Linked DNA regions of Homo sapiens: region 1 is linked to region 2. The links come from fine-mapping of genetic effects on gene expression. A gene starts in region 2. The other region holds a variant in brackets. All regions are shown on one strand. Distances are between the middles of the regions.

Region 1 (8,000 bases), 60 kb after region 2:
CATGCACCACCACACCTGGCTGATTTTTTATTTATTTATTTTTCTTGAGACAAGGTCTGGCTCTGTCACCCAGGCTGGAGTGCAGTGGTGCAATCTCTGCTCAGTGCAACCTCCGCCTCCCAGGCTCAAGCCATCCTTTGAACCTCAGCCTACCAAGTAACTGCGACTACCAGTGCACACCACCACGCCCGGTTAGTTTTTGTATTTTTTTGTAGATACAGTGTTTCGCCATGTCACCCAGGCTGGTCCTGAACTCTTGAGCTCAAACCATCTGTTGGCCTCTCAAAGTGCTGGGATTACAGGCGTGAGCCACTGAGCCCGGCCTGATTTTTTATTTTTTTGTAGAGACAGAGTCTCATTATGTTGCCCAGGCTGGTCTCAAACTCCTGGGCTCAAGCAGTTTTTCCGCCTCAGCCTCCCAATGTACTGGGATTACAGGTGTGAGCCACCGTGCCTGGCCCCTTATACCATTTTCTAATACTATGATTCCTTTCTAAACAAGAGTTGAATCCAGGTTAAATATGTATATGAGAAAATGAGGTAAACAAGGAGCCAAGTCTTCAGGCACTTGACACACAGGTTTAGTAGATTAACTGGAAAACTGTACTTTGTATATCTTTATTTTTGTATTATTGTTGTGTATTATAGCTTAATAGTTACAAGCATGGGCTTAGAGTAAGACCTGGGTTCAAATTCTGGTTCATTGCTTCCTACTTTTTTGCCCTTGTGCAGGTCAAAGGTCAGCAAATGGAAGCTGCTGGTTTTTGGTGGTTTGGATAGCCTGTGGTGATGGCTGCATTTCTTTCTCTTTTCTTGATCAGGTGGATTTGTTTAAAAAGAGTCTTCTGTTGATTCCTATTCACCTGGAAGTCCACTGGTCTCTCATTACTGTGACACTCTCTAATCGAATTATTTCATTTTATGATTCCCAAGGCATTCATTTTAAGTTTTGTGTAGAGGTAAGTTAATATACTGCCTATTTTTTCATTTATTTTGTAATTGGCCAAATAGCATCTTAGCTCTAGATAGAACAGCAGCAGTCAAAACCATATAGGAACAGTTTATGTCATGAAAATCCTCCAAAGTGTTAGCTGAGAAAAGGACTAGAAGAGGAATCTCTGGCTGAGGAGAGGATCTGTCTAGGATCCAGATCCCCCTCTGAGATACTCCACTTGGATTTTCTCTGCTTTTCCCTTAAAACTACATCTTGAATGTGGTTAGAAATTGTTTTTCTTTGATCATCTTAGAGCTAAAATTGGCCTGTATCTGCAAAATAACTCCTGTAGAATAAACTATAACCTAATGGAATCAATTGACAAAATATTAGTGTTCAGCTAATAAACAGATGGTGGGATACAAAATCAAGAAAAATGAGTAGGTTTCCGGATTTTCCTGCACTACCAAGAACCAGTAAGAAAATGTAACTGGGAATAAGATTCCATTTATAAAAGAAACAAAACATAAATAACCCAGGAATATGCCCTAGGAAGAAATGTGGAAATTCTTTATTATGAAAACTCCTAAAGCTTTAAGTACTTAAAAGAAATCTGTACAAAACTGTAAAAGTATTTGAATGAAATATGGAAAATGTTATGTTCACAGAGTGGGGAAGGACTTCTTAACATGGAACCAAAGAAAAGACATAAGGAACAATTGGATAAATTTAACCACCTAATAATTTAAAACTTCTGTATATCATAAAGTTAAAGGACAAGCAACAGACTTGGAGAAAATATGTATGATGCAAATAACAGACAATAACTATCCAGAATACATGGAAAACTCCTACAAATGAATAAGGGGAGGATAAAAGGACATAATAGAAATGGACAAAGGCTAATTTAGTAAATTTTAGGAAAAATGCAAATGACCATTTAAAAACACAGAGAGGTGTTCAGCCTTACCAGAAATTATAGAAATGCAAATGAAAACTACATCAGTTAAATTTTTTGCCCATTATGTTAGAAAAAGTGATGCTATTCAAGTGTCTATGTAAGTGTAAGGAAATAGGCATTCTCATATTTTCTGGTTAGAGTGTATAAATTGATACAGCCGCTTGGGGATAGTTGCAGTTCTCATCAGTTCTAAGTGCTTTGTAAATTAAAAAGATACAAATTCTGTTGCATATCAGTTCCATTTCTTGTTATCTACTGCATAAAAATGCTTGTATATGCACACAAGAATGAGGCATGTGCGAGGATGTTCATGGCAGCATTATTTATAATAGTGCAAAATAAAACAACCCAAATTTAGCTCTAGCAAGAGAATAGCTAAATACACTATGGTACGGTATACCCATACTATTAAACTGACCATAGTAGTTAAATTGAATATAGTAGACCTTCAAGTCCTCAAATGGAAAGATGTCCAAGGCATAGAGCTTTAAAAAGCCAATTGTGGAATGATACGGTATAGTACACAAATACATGCAGGTGTATGTGTAGACACATATATACATACATATTTGTAAGTAAAAAGGTGGGACCTTACCATTTTTTATATCAATGATTATTACCTTTGGGTAAGTGTAGAAAAGCAGGACTAATAGTTAAAGAGGATTTGGCCTCATTTTGCGTTTTTTTTTTTACAAGGAGAATATTTTCTTGTATTATTTGTTTAATTAACATTTAATTTAAAAATTAAGTATAATGCAAACTATGAGGAAAATCAAGTTTTCGAAATCCACATTTTCATTTCCAAGAAATCCAGGAAAAAAAATACCCCAAAAACAAGAAGCCTCGTGGGCCCAGAGTTCTCACAATACCAGATGTGAGCGTCTTTTCCAGTTCCCTTCCCCTAATTCCTTGCCTTTCTCTCAACCAACATATTCCCATACCTGCCAGAGCCTGTCTATATTGTCTCTTTCCTAGACAGACCTGCAAAGGTATAACCAAAAGTGCAGCCATATCAGTGCCTTTAAGACTCAGATTCTGACAGGCAGAGGAGAGCAGAGGTGTTGGGAAAACTGTTTCAAGTAGGAACTATTTACTGTGCCTCTTGCTTTGTGCCAGGCACTGATGCTAGGGAGTCAGGTAGGGGCCAGAGAAACATTCGCCTTCATGGAGTGAATGATGGTTAAACAGGATTTTGTTTGTAAAACATGCAGTTGGGTTTAAGTCGATTTTGAATCATTAGGGCCTGGTTCTGCACAGTAATAAAAATTCATCTTCTGAATTTTTGCCCAAGCCCTCCTGCAGAGTTCTTACCTTTTCAGCAAAATTACAATTGGCCTAATAATTTTGCACATTTGCAAAAAGACCCTAAGAACAGACTCCTTTTAGGTGATAGCTAGAAGTCATTTAGAGCCAAATACAGTTCAGTCATCTGGCCAGGTGGGGTCAAGCTGTTTTTAGTTTTAAGAGGATGTAGGGGTTGTAGAAGTGGCTCTTAACTAAGGGGCCTGTATTTCCAAAGAATTGACAAAAAGTGTTTTAAACAGTCACCACATAAATGTGTAGATTCCATGACAGCAGAGACTACAAGAGCTTTATTCACTAGTGTCCCCAGCACTTGAACCCTTAGAGATGCTCAGTACATTTTGAGTGCCGGTGACCATTTTTAAGGACAAATCCTTTTTGCCTGTATTTTACTTAAGAATGTACATATACTGGCCGGGCAGGGTGGCTCACGCCTGTGATCCCAGCACTTTGGGAGGCTGAGGCGGGCGGATCAGAAGGTCAAGAGATAGAGACCAGCCTGGCCAACATGGTGAAACCCCGTCTCTATTAAAAATACAAAAATTAGCTGGGCATGGTGGTGCACGCCTGTAGTCCCAGCTACTCGGGAGGCTGAGGCAGGAGAATCGCTTGAACCTGGGAGGTGGAGGTTGCAGCGAGCCGAGATCGCACCACTACACTCTAGCCTGGGTAACAGAGCAAGACTCCGTCT[CA/C]AAAAAAAAAAAAAAAGAATTTATATATACTGCTTATTCTGAGAACTTGAAGTTACTTCTTTAGAGGGAGCAGTGCAACATGCTGTCATACTTTGTTGGATATTAAGTATTTGCTTTCATCATGTTTTTTCTTCTGAAGAGGTGGCTTCCAGTCCACCTTTTTTTTTTTTTTTTTGAGTCAGAGTCTCACTCTGTCCCCTGGGTTGGAGTGCAGTGGCCCAGTCTTGGCTCATGGCAACCTCCGCCTCCTGGGTTCAAGCGATTCTCATGTCTCAGCCTCTGGAGTAGCTGGGATTACAGGTGTGCACCACCACACCTGGCTAATTTTTGTATTTTTAGTAGAAATGGGGTTTCACCATGTTGGTCAGGCTGATCTTGAACTCCTGACCTCACCTCATGTGATCCACCTGCCTCAGCCACCCAAAGTGCTGGGATTACAGGTGTGAGCCACCGCGTCTGGCCCTGGTCCACTTTTGTTGGGGGGTGGGGTGGGTTATTCACATAACCTCTGACTTCACTCTTGATGTGGAGAGAGACGCACAGAGGTTGAGAGCACTGGGGACATTTTGAAACTCCAGCAGGCTTCATCTTGGTAGATAGTTCAACAGTGGACTTGAGCATATTTAGTATTCAGAAGGAATTTTAGTATTACTTTCCAGAAGCTGAATGTTAACCTTTTCTGCAGCCCTCAAAAATAAGGAGTGTATCAGAATATCTAAGGCTGGAATATTTTTCATTTAGTTTTAGTTATTAATGATGTCTGCCATGGGTTCCTTTCCTCTGTTGAGCATGGGCAATGATGAAGACTTTCTTTTTGACTTGCCAGTATGTAAGTTTCAAATGCAGCAAGCTGACTTACTGCTGGGAAGGGCTGGCTAACCATCTCATAAAACGTTCTGATTACACAAATGCCAGCGTCCACAGTCTTGATGCATACCTTGAATACAGAAGGTCTGACTCCCCCTTAACAATATGAAATGAAGAGTCTGAAATAAAGTCCCGGCTTTAGCCGGGAGCGGTGGTGTACACCTATAGTCCCAGCTACTTGGAAGGCTGAGGTAGGAGGATCTCTGAAGCCTAGGAGTTCAAGGCTGCAGTGAGCTATGATCACGCCATTGTACTCCAGCCTGGGTGACAGAGCAAGATCCTCTCTTTAAAAAAAAAAAAAAAAAAAATTGTTCCAGCTTCTTAATGCATATTCTGCCCAGTTATGGGGCCACAGCCTCCTCCTTTCCTTCTGTCTGCTATGGGCATGTTCCATTTTTCACCAACTGATGGAACACAGCATCTGTGTTGTGGTTTCTTTTTAACCAGAATATAAGAAAGTATTTGCTGACTGAAGCCAGAGAAAAAAATAGACCTGAATTTCTTCAGGGTTGGCAGACTGCTGTTACGAAGGTAAGTATGTGATAACAATGAAACCCAGGCATGTCCAGGGGATGGAATTATCTAAGGGTGGGTGCCTTTAAGAGCATTTGAAGACTAGTGACAGAGATACCAAGGAGAGCCTGGAGGCTCCAGGGAGGCAGCTGAGAATGAACTTCAGTTGACTATTCATCATCGCTGCTCAGTTGCCCAGTGCTTCCCGGGAGCAAATCACTTCAGTCATTTCCTCCCTGAGGAAGTTGCTAATGATGTGTTTGCTCTTCTGGGGAAAAAAAAAATCTTTTTTGGGTGGCACTTGCCTCTTGCATCATGGCTCTTATTTCCAGATGACCCATATAGACCCAGAGAAATGCTGAAATGACTATTTGGATCCACTGAGGGGGAGAAAGTGCATTGAGCTACTTGGCAGGCATGTGGGGAAGATAGTAGCCCAAGCGCTTCAGTCCCACCACTGTCTGGATGCAGCACCATGCTTGGCCCATGACATTCAAACTGTGGGGCAGAGTGCCCAGGCACAGCCGCTCATTCCTGTCGTAAATACCAGTGTCTTCATTGATGGTGGGCTGTGTTGTTTCCAGTGTTTTTGTGTATTGGATCTCATTTGATCCTTATAACCTGTGAGGTAGGCAGGTCATTTAGGGATAAGCATCGTCTTTATTTTGTAAATGAGAAAACTGAAGCCCAGGTGTGATTTTCCCCAAAGGACATCAAAACTATTGATACAGAGTCAGGTCCTTGAACACAGGTCTGTCTGGATCATTGACAGGATGTTATAGGCAGGATCTTGAAACAAACCTTTAACCCAAACCCAAAGAGACAAGATTTATTAGTTCACCCTTGAACCGAACCAAATGCTAAATTTTAAAATTAAGCTTAAGTTTTGTGTTTTGAATAACCTAGTATACCAGTTCAAACCAGAACTAGTAAATTTCCTGAATTTACCCAACTAAAAAATCTGGGTATTCTAAATTTAGTCAGGATCTTCTGTATTACCGCTTTGAGCAGAATACAGTAACCAGTTCTTTTAAAAACATACTGTTGGCCGGGCACAGTGGCTCACACCTGTAATCCCAGCACTTTGGGAGGCAAAGGTGCGTGGATTGCGTGAGTCTAGGAGTTCAAGACCAGCCTGGGCAACATGGTGAGACCTCATCTCTACAAATAATAAAATTAGCCAGGCGTAGTCCCAGCTACTTGGGATGCTGAGGTGGGAGGATTGCTTGAACTCAGGAGACTGAGATCGTGCCACTGCACTCCAGCCTGGGCGACAGAGTGAGACCCTGTCGCGAAAAACCCAAAACAAAAACCATACTGTTTACCTTCACGATTTCTTTCAAAGAATAGGACAGGGTCGTGTGATGTGAGATCAGAAGTGAAGACTGCTCAGCGGAGTTGTCGCCATCCTAGCATCCAGAGGCTGGGCCTTTGTTCTCCCAGGCACAGTTCCATTTTGACTCCACTGTCAATGAATTGATAGCAGAGCTCAGTATCCAAATGCATGTTTTAAAACAGGTTTTTACATTTGATTTCCCATTTCTCATATTTAGGTAAAACATTGTCCTATAAATTGGGGTTGCCACCTGATAGCTCTTTTTATGTGGCCAGGTGCCTCCATAAAATTAGATGCTTGAGATATCAGATATACCAGCTGTCCTGGAGAGAGAAAAGTTTCCTATCTTTTGCGCATTTTTCCATAAAGGAGTTTTTCTTATCTGAAGAGAAGTAATGGATCTTGTTTTAATGACTATTTTGTTTTTCCCTTCAGTGTATTCCACAACAGAAAAACGACAGTGACTGTGGAGTCTTTGTGCTCCAGGTAAAGAAACACTTGCTTTTCGGAACTTACAATGTGTGAATTGAGTCTGTTGGGTTGAGAGGGGAGAGATGGCAGTTCCTGTATGTGTATATGATGCTAGGTACGAGCAACGGAGTACTTTCCCTCCCCTTTATTGCTGAGGAGCAGTAGTTTCTGCATGTTCAGATGTTATCATTAGGAAGAACCACCTTCCAGGGATCAAGAGTGAAGTGTGGGTGTCATCCATGTCTCACTGGAGGTTATTAGTAAGCCACATTGGAGACTGACTTGAATTTGTCCATATCATAACCATTGGCATTTGCATAAAAAAAAAAAAAAAAAAACATTGGCAAGCAATCTGCAGGTCTTTGACACAGTGATTAGATTTTAAATAAGGTCCACGTTGAGAAACTGCCATCTTGTGCTGTAGATCTCCTTAGAGATCGAAAAGGGCTATGGAAAAAAATTCAGTTATACATATATTTATGTTGGAAATTACAGAATATGATGCATGAATTTAGAGATTTGCAAAGATCTTGGAAGACCGGTTCGTTTGTATACCTCATGCATGTTTGGGGTTTTATAAACAAATTCAAGTTCCCATTAAGGGCCATGATGGGTCTAGCTGCACTCCAGCAGGTTGCACTTTGGGAGGAATTGAGGCCTTTTCATCAGTTGCTGCTTTTCACAGTATTGGGTCAGGAGGGAGAGGAGATCCCAAGCCATGCACTAGCTTGGTCAGTCACCTATAATTTGGGTAAATGCTTAAAACAGTGTATTTTTACAGTAGTTTAAACAGACATGAAAATGCTGCCTTAGATCGGGGTCCCAAACCCCTGGGCCACGGACAGATACTGTCCACATTAGGTTCTCTTAGGAGTGTGAACCCTGTTGTGAACTGCAGATGCGAGGGATCTAGGTTGCTCACCC
Region 2 (8,530 bases):
TTCCTCCATTCTGATTTCTCTGTCTCTATATTCTACCTCTTGTCAAATTATATTGGCTAACACATCCAGAAAAATATTAAGTAATAGCTGTAAAAATGGATAAACTGCTTTTGTTCTTGACTTCAAGTTTGGGAGCACTTTTATGGTGCCCCCATTAAGTATGATGCTGAATAATTTTTTGTATTTTTAGTAGAGATGGGGTTTCACCATGTTAGCCAGGATGGTCTTGATCTCCTGACCTTCTGATCCGCCCACTTCGGCCTCCCAAAGTGCTAAGATTATACAGTGAGCCACCGCCCAGCCCAGAGTGCACTTTTTTCAATCCTCCCTGCAATTGGCTACTTTTAGGATCCTGCTGATTGGTGCATTTTACAGAACACTGATTGGTGCATTTTACAGCATGCTGATTGGTGTGTTTTACAGAGTGCTGATTGGTGCATTTTACAATCCTCTTGCTAGCTACAGCGTGCTGATTGGTGCGTTTTACAGAGCGCTGATTGGTGCATTTTACAATCTGCTTGCTAGCTACAGAGCGCTGATTGGTGCGTTTTACAGAGCACTGATTGGTGCATTTTACAATTCTCTTGCTAGCTACAAAGCATTGATTGGCGCATTTTTACAGAGTGCCGATTGGTGCATTTTACAATCCTCTTTAAAGACAGAAAAGTTCTCCAAGTCCCCACTCAACCCAGGAAGTCCAGCTGGCTTCACCTGTCACTACCAACGTCATTTTTCAAGGAACTAGAAAAAATTATTCTAAAATCTACATGGAATCAGAAAGACTCTGAATAGCGAAAGCAATCCTAAGTGGAAAGAATAAAGCCAGAGGCATCACATTACTGGACTTCAAGCTATACTACAAGGCTACAGTAACCAAAACAGCATGGTATTGGTTAAAAAAAAAACAACACCTATGGTCATCTGATCTTTGGCAAGGTTGATAATAACAAGCAAAGGGGAAAGAACACTGTATTCAATAAATTGTGCTAAGATAGTTGGCTAGCTATATGCAAAAGAATAAAACTGGAGCCCCACTTTTCACCGTATATTAAAATTAACTCAAAACAAATTGAGAATTTAAATGTAACCCTTCAAGCTATAAGAATCGTAGAAGAAATCCTGGGAAACACCATTCTGGACATTGGCTTTGGGAAATAATTTATGACTAAATCCTCAAAAGCAATTGCAACAAAACCAAAACTTGACAAATGGGACCTAATTAAAGCAAAGAACTTCTGCACAGCAAAAGAACCTATCAACAGAGTAAACAGACAACTTACAATGGGAGAAAATATTCATAATTTATGCATCCAACAAAGGTTCAATATCAGAATCTATAAGGAACTTAACTGAACAAACAAGAAACAAATATCCCCATTAAAAATGGGCAAATGGCTGGGAGAGGCGGCTCACACCTGTAATCCCAGAACTTTTGGAGCCCAAGGAGGGCAGATTACGAGGTTGGGAGTTCAAGACCAGCCTGTCCAACATGGTGAAACCCCAACTCTATTAAAAATACAAAAAGTAGCCAGGCGTGGTGGTGTGCGCCTGTAATCCCAGCTACTTGGGAGGCTTAGGCAGGAGAATTGCTTGAACCCAGGACATAGAGGGTGCAGTGAGCCAAGATTGTGCCATTGCACTCCAGCCTGGGCAATACAGTAAGACTCCATGTAAATAAATAAATATATAAATAAATAAATAAAATAAAATGGGCAAAACACATAAATAGGAACTTCTCAAAAGAAGACATACAAGTGGCCCACAAACATATAAAAAAATGCTCAACATCACTAATCATCAGAGAAAAGCAAATGAAAATCACAATTAGATACCATCTCACACCAGTCGGAATAGCTATTATTAAAAAGCCAAAAAATAACATGCTGTTGAGGCTGCAGAGAAATGGGAACACTTATACTCTGTTGGTGAAAATGTAAATTAGTTCAGTTACTGTGGAAAGCAGTTTGGAGATTTCTTTTCTTTTTTTTTTCTTCAAGACAGAGTCTTGCTCTGTCACGCATGCTGGAGTGCAGTGGTACGATCTCGGCTCACTGCAACTTCTGCCTCCCAGGGTCAGGCAATTCTCCTGCCTCAGCCTCCAGAGTAGCTGGGATTACGGTCACCCACCACCACACCCAGCTAATTTTTGTGTTTTTAGTAGAGACAGGGTTTCACCATGTTGGCCAGGCTGGTCTCAAACTCCTGACCTAAGGTGATCTGCTCCACTCGGCCTCCCAAAGTGCTGGGATTACAGGCGTGATCCACTGTGCCCGGCCTGGAGATTTCTTAAATAACTTAAAACAGAACTACCATTTGATCCAGCAATCCCATTACTGGGTATACATCCAAAAGAAAATAAATTATCCTACCAAAAAAACACATGCATTTGTATGTTCATTGCAGCACTGTTCACAATAGCAATGACATGGAGTCAACCTCGGTGCCCATCGATGGTGGACTGGATAAAGAAAATGTACAAACACGCTATGGAATACTTCACAGCCATAAAAAGTATGAAGTCATGTCTTTTGCTGAAATATGAATGTAGCTTGAGGCTGTTATCCTAAGTGAAATAATGCAGGAACAAAAATCCAAATGCTACATGCTCTCAGTTATAAGTAGAAGCTAAATAATGAGTATTCGTGGATATAAGGATGGTAACAACAGGCCAGATGCAGTGGCTCACGCCTGTAATCCCAGCACTTTGGAAGGCTGAGATGGGTGGATCACGAGGTCAGGGGTTTGAGACCAGCCTGGCCAACATGGTGAAACTCTATCTCTTCTAAAAATACAAAAATTAGCTGGGTGTGGTGGCGGTCACCTGTAATACCAGCTACTTGGGAGGCTGAGGCAGAATCACTTGAACCTGGGAGGCAGAGGTTGCAGTGAGCCGAGATTGCGCCATTGTACTCCAGCCTGGGCAACAAGGGCGAAGCTTGGCCTCAAAAAAAAAAAACAAACAACAACAACAAAAAAAAACAAAACCTGAAAATCTAATATTTAAAATTAAGAACTCAATGTATAGATTTAACAGCAGATTGGAGATTATAGAAGATAGACTCAATAACCTGAAAAACAGAAAACCTTCAAACTGAATAATTGAAAAAAAAATTGACATCACAAAGTGTAAAAGACACGGTGAACAAGATCAAATAATCTTACATATGGGCTGGGTGCCGTGGCTCATGCCTGTAATCCCAGCACTTTGGGAGGCTGAGGCAGGTGGATCACCGGAGGTCAGGAGTTGAAGACCGGCCTGACCAACATGGTGAAACCCTATCTCTACTAAAAATACAAAAATTAGCCGGGCGTGGTGGTGGGCGCTTGTAATTCTGGCTACTCGATAATAATACTATTATAATAGTATTATCTACCTCAGTAGATAATACTGCTGAGGCAGGATTATCGCTTGAACCCGGGAGGCAGAGGCAGAGGTTGCAGTGAGACGAGATTGCGCCACTGCACTCCAGCTTGAGCAAAAAGAGTGAAACTCTGTCTCAATAATAATAATAATAATCTTACATATGTAATTGGTGTCTCGGAGAACAGGCATAGAGAATGCAGCAAAAACCATATCTGAAGAGATAATGATTGAGAATTTCTCAAAACTGATGCAAGACATCTACCCACAAATCAGAGAAACTCAATGATATCCAAGACAGATAAATACAAAGAAAACAAAGATAGGGCACAAAATAAATGGCTAAAAATCACTAACAGGCTGGGTGCGGTGGCTCACGCCTGTAATCCCAGCACTTTGGGGGGCTGAGGCGGGCAGATCACGAGGTCAGGAGATCGAGATTATCCTGGCTAACTTGGTGAAACCCGGTCTCTACTAAAGAAATACAAAAAAAATTAGCCAAGCGTGGTGGTGGACGCCTGTAGTCCCAGCTACTCAGGAGGCTGAGGCAGGAGAATGGCGTGAACCCGGGAGGCAGAGCTTGCAGTGAGCCGAGATGGCGCCACTGCACTGCAGCCTGGGCGACAGAGCGACACTCCTCTAAAAAAAAAAAAAAAATCACTGACAAAGAGAAACTGTTAAAAAGAAGTGAGAGGGCCTGGTGTGGTGGTTCACGCCTGTAATTCGAGCACTGTGGGAGGCCCAGGTGGGAGGATCACTTGAGCTCAGGGGTTCAAGACCAGCCTGGGCAACATAGGGAGATGTCATCGCTACAAAAATAATGATAGTAATAGTAATAAAAAATTAGCCGGGCGTGGTGCAGGAGCCTGTGGTCGCAGGTACCCTGGAAGATGAGGTGGGAGGATCGCTTGAGCCCAGGAGGCAGAGGTTACAGCGAGCCTAGGGTGTGCCACGGCACTCCGGCTTGGGCGAGACAGCAAGACCCTGTTTGGAAAAAAAAAAAAAAGAAAAGAAAAAAGAAAAAAAAATCAACAGTAATTGCAGCCATTGCTTAGAACTAAGACTAAACAAAGCTTTTGTTTGGAAAGGAGTACTTTTTCATTAACATTGTTTAGAATTTTCTGACACATGATGATAATTAAAAGCAAACCATCCTGCAGTTGGCTTCGGTATTGTTTTTATCTTCTCCACCATCAATGCATATCCTTACTGCCTACACAGGCTCTCAGCAACGCACTGTTGGTTTTCCATTGCAGTCACCTCCACTTTATTCTTCCAGATCGAGTATGTTCAAAACTGAACTCATCTTCCGCCATAAATCTGCTATTATTATGTTTTTGCCTGTCAGGACATCGGCTTATAATTTTGGAAAGCATTCACAGTTGGGGCGGGTAAGACATAGATAAAGAGGCCAATCACAATACCAGGGGTAAGATCAATAGGAAAACCAGAGAGCGGACGCCTGGGCCAGGCCTCACAACGTCCAGAGCTGGAATGGGTCTTTTGCTTTCGGCGCAGGGGTGACGGGATCAGCGGAGGGTAGGGGTGTACACTAGCTGCGGTCTGATTTAGCCCTTTTAGGTTAAAAGCTGGAGAAGGGGCTGAAGTCTCAAACGCGCTTAGCAGCTCCTGAACGCGGTTCCCATCCCAGCGCGTTCTGAGGGAGGCCGGGGCTAAGGACGCGGTGACGGGCGGGGGCGGGGCGGCCCCGGGTCGGGAGGCGGGGCGGGAGCGCCGGAAGCGGGCGGTGCCAGGCCCAGCCTCGCAGGCGGAAGGGCGCGGAGGAGGTGACGCGATAGGCCAGCGCCGGCGTCGCGGCAGCCGCTTCAGAGGAAGCTCGGCGGCTGTGGCCGCGGCGAACAGGCCGGACGCCTCGTCGCTGGCGGGGCTTCCCTTGGAGCTGACGAAGGCGGGGTCCGCGGTCCAGGCTGCTGCCGCGACGGGGCCGGCGGCGGGGCAGCTGCCAGGAACGAGGGTAGCAGGTAAGCGGGGACGCGGGCAGACGAGTGACGGACTCAGCGATCGCCTGGCGGGGCTGGCTGGGGCCATTCCCGCGCCGGTGCGCCACCTCAGCGCCCGGTCCGGAGGCCTCGAGCCGCCCTCCCCCGCCCGAGCTGGAGGCCGCCGTCCGTCTCGGCCACAGCCTCCCTTTCCGGGGGAGGCGAGCGAGCTCGTCCCGAGGGGCCGCTGCCCTGCGCTCTCGCTCCAGCCGGGCTGTGCGTCGCAGGCACCGGGAAGCTGGCGCCCCCCAGCTCCTCCTGAAGCCGGGAAAGCTCTGAGAGGAGGAGCCGCTGTCACAGGCCTCCAGCTCCGGCCGCCGTGGAAGTCCGGGGTTTTTATTTGCTTAGACCGCTCTGCCTCCTTCCGGCCTTCGTTTCTTTCCTCGCGCTCCCCGGGACCCTTTTCCAGAGAGCCCGGTTGGGCATGAGCGCGGTGGGAGACGTCTTTTCCCTTCGGTCTGCTCTGAGCGGTATCAGCCTCCGCTCTACGCCCTGTGGCCACTCTGTCGGGGTGGAGGGATGCGGAGAGGATGTGGGAGTTTTGGACTTAGAGCGAGAATAGCCGAGGTGAAATCCTACCCTGCTCTCTGGTAGTGTTTTTCATCTCATGCTAGATAGACATTTCGACCTTTTTCACCGCAGGTAAAGTGGGACTTTCTTCTACCAATGTAAATTATAATGTTTGGAGAATTAAATGAAGAAAGCAGACGTTAGTTATGAAATGTTTTGAGAATCTGGTTAAATTTAATTTAAGAATATCCAGGACACTTCATGATAGGTTCCTACTTATGTTTTTTTTTTGCATTTTGCCCGGAATAACTAAGCTTGGTATGGAAAAGGTTGCCTAGAGATGCCAGGCGCTCGTGTGGTCAGAGCCTAACTGCAGTCTCTGTTTTGGGTGGGCAGCATCAGGAAGAAACCAGACTCTCTCCTAGCCATCCACATGTCTCACGCTTATTGATGGCATATTATTGGTATATGAGGGATGGCTTATATCAGTTTTGATCTTTACTCAAGATAGCTTTTTCCCAGTGCATCTTTTCTAGGAGAAAAGCTTGGTATGTAGAGGAGGGTGCTGGGGAGGGGGGCTTCATTTACACCTGGGCTCACAATTTTTTTTTGGAGGGGGGACAGGGTCTCACTCTGACACCCAGCCTGGAGTGCAGTGGCGCGATCTTTTCAGCTCACTGCAACCTCCTCCTCCCAGGTTCAAGCGATTCTCCTGCCTCAGCCTCCAGAGTAGCTGGGATTACAGGTGCCCGCCATCGCGCCCGGCTAATTTTTGTATTTTTAGTAGACATGGGGTTTCACCATGTTGGCCAGGCTGGTCTCGACCTCCTGACCTCAAGTGATCTACCTGCTTCCGCCTCTCAAAAGTGCTGGGATCAGCCGGGCGCGGTGGTTGACGCCTGTAATCCCAGCACTTTGGGAGGCCGAGGCGGGCAGATCACCTGAGGTCGGGAGTTCGAGATCAGCCTAACCAACATGGTGAAACCCCATCTCTACTAAAAATACAAAATTAGCCAGGCGTGGTGGCGCATGCCTGTAATCCCAGCTACTCGGAAGGCTGAGGCAGGAGACTAGCTTGAACCCGGGAGGCGAGGTTGTGGTGAGCTGAGATAGTGCCATTACACTCCAGCCTGGGCAACAAGAGCAAAACTCCGTCTCAAAAAAAAAAAAAAAAAAAAAAAAAGGTGCTGGGATTACAGGAGTGAGTCACTGCGCCTGGGCTATATTACTTTCTAAATCAGCCTTTTTTTTTTTTTTTGGTAGGCCATTATGTGAATCCTTCAAAAATCATAGAAAAATTGAAATTTAACAATATTTTGCTTTTATTCTAGCTTGTCATAAACCCAGTGCTCTATACACAGGCCTGCCTTTCTGCCTCCTTCATCCTGGCATGCATGGCCATTTACTTTGTGTTATTAGCCAGCTTCCTATGGAGCTCAGTTTGAGAACGGGGTTCTGTGCTTCTCTAGTTGCCAAACATCTGATTGAAGTAGATCACCTTGGCATTTGCGATATTAAGCATGTCTTTGCGAATTTTTAGTTCCTTTTTCTTTTCTTGGTTAGATTGTACTCTGTCACTGATTTAAAGAATTTGGTAGACGCTCAGAAAGGGTCAACTGGTAAGGTGGTCACAGTGCTTTACATGTATTTTTCTTACCTATTATGGTGAAACCCTTGTGACTTTTTTTGGGCGTGGGTAATATTTTCAAAATTAAGGTAAATAGGCCATCAGGCTGCGTTGAACTTTCTCTTTTAGGGAAATATATTCATTCTCCAATTATTCTTTGGTAGCCTTCTTATTGCTTTAGCAATTCCTACTCTATTATTAGTAGAGCCGGAAATGGACCCTACATCACAGATTCTCCAAATATACTAAATTATTTTTTCTCTAAAATGATCATGTTTATAGCATGTTGATTTTCTTTTTTTTTCTTTTGAGACAGAGTTTCACTCTTGTGCAGGCTGGAGGGCAACAGCTTGATCTCTGCTCACTGCAACTTCCGCCTCCCGGGTTCAAGTGATTGTCCTGTCTCAGCCTCCCAAGTAGCTGGGATTACAAGCGCCCACCACCACGCCCGGCTAATTTTTGTATTTTTAGTAGAGATGGGGTTTCACCATGTTGGCCAGGCTGGTCTTGAACTCCTGACCTCAAGTGATCTCTCCGTCTCAGCCTCCCAAAGCGCGGGGATTACAGGTGTGAGCCACTGTATCCGGTCAGCAGCATGTTGATTTTCTACAACCAGATGACAAAGGATATCCTAAAGTCAGTGATTTAAAAAGTCATGTTGGCTTGGTGCGGTGGCTCATGCCTGTAATCCCAGCACTTTGGGAGGCCGAGGCGGGTGGATCACGAGTCAGGAGTTAGAGAACAGCCTGGCCAACATGGTGAAACTCCGTCTGTACTGAAAATACAAAAAAATTAGCTGGGCATGGTGGCGGGCGCCTATAATCCCAGCTACTCGGGAGGCTGAGGCAGGAGAATCGTTTGAACCCATGAGGTAGAGGTTGCAGTGAGCCGAGGTTGCACCATTGCATTCCAGCTTTGGCAACAGGGTGAGACTCTGTCTCAGAAAAAAAAACAAAAAACAAGTGATGGTAACACATAGGTTGTCTAATACATTCAGAGTCTAGAGAGACCTGGTATGTATCTGAGAAACCA

Which allele goes with the higher level. Positions count from the first base shown, and alleles are read on the strand shown. Sizes are in standard deviations (SD) of each study's normalised expression.
For the expression in monocytes of the gene that starts at base 5,190 in region 2, allele CA in region 1 goes with a lower level than allele C (small effect, 0.34 SD a copy in Quach 2016).

What was found. PIP is the estimated chance that this variant, and not a neighbour inherited with it, causes the effect. A credible set is the group of variants that fine-mapping cannot tell apart.
Region 1: its variant is the best candidate, but not a certain one, in a credible set for the expression of SENP5 in monocytes (Quach 2016, PIP 0.70).

The regions. Positions count from the first base shown.
Region 1 is chr3:196,922,593-196,930,592 of GRCh38, forward strand. It overlaps SENP5 (SUMO specific peptidase 5), which reads left to right. Exons shown (of 10, transcript NM_152699.5): 7 at 822-959; 8 at 5,204-5,287; 9 at 7,041-7,091. Among named protein-coding and RNA genes, the nearest start is that of NCBP2-AS1, 13 kb to the right of the region's middle. The variant CA/C (reference allele first, on the strand shown) is at 3,889.
Region 2 is chr3:196,862,731-196,871,260 of GRCh38, forward strand. It overlaps SENP5 (SUMO specific peptidase 5), which reads left to right and starts at 5,190. Exons shown (of 10, transcript NM_152699.5): 1 at 5,190-5,343. RefSeq lists a silencer at 4,967-5,546 and an enhancer at 6,198-6,699.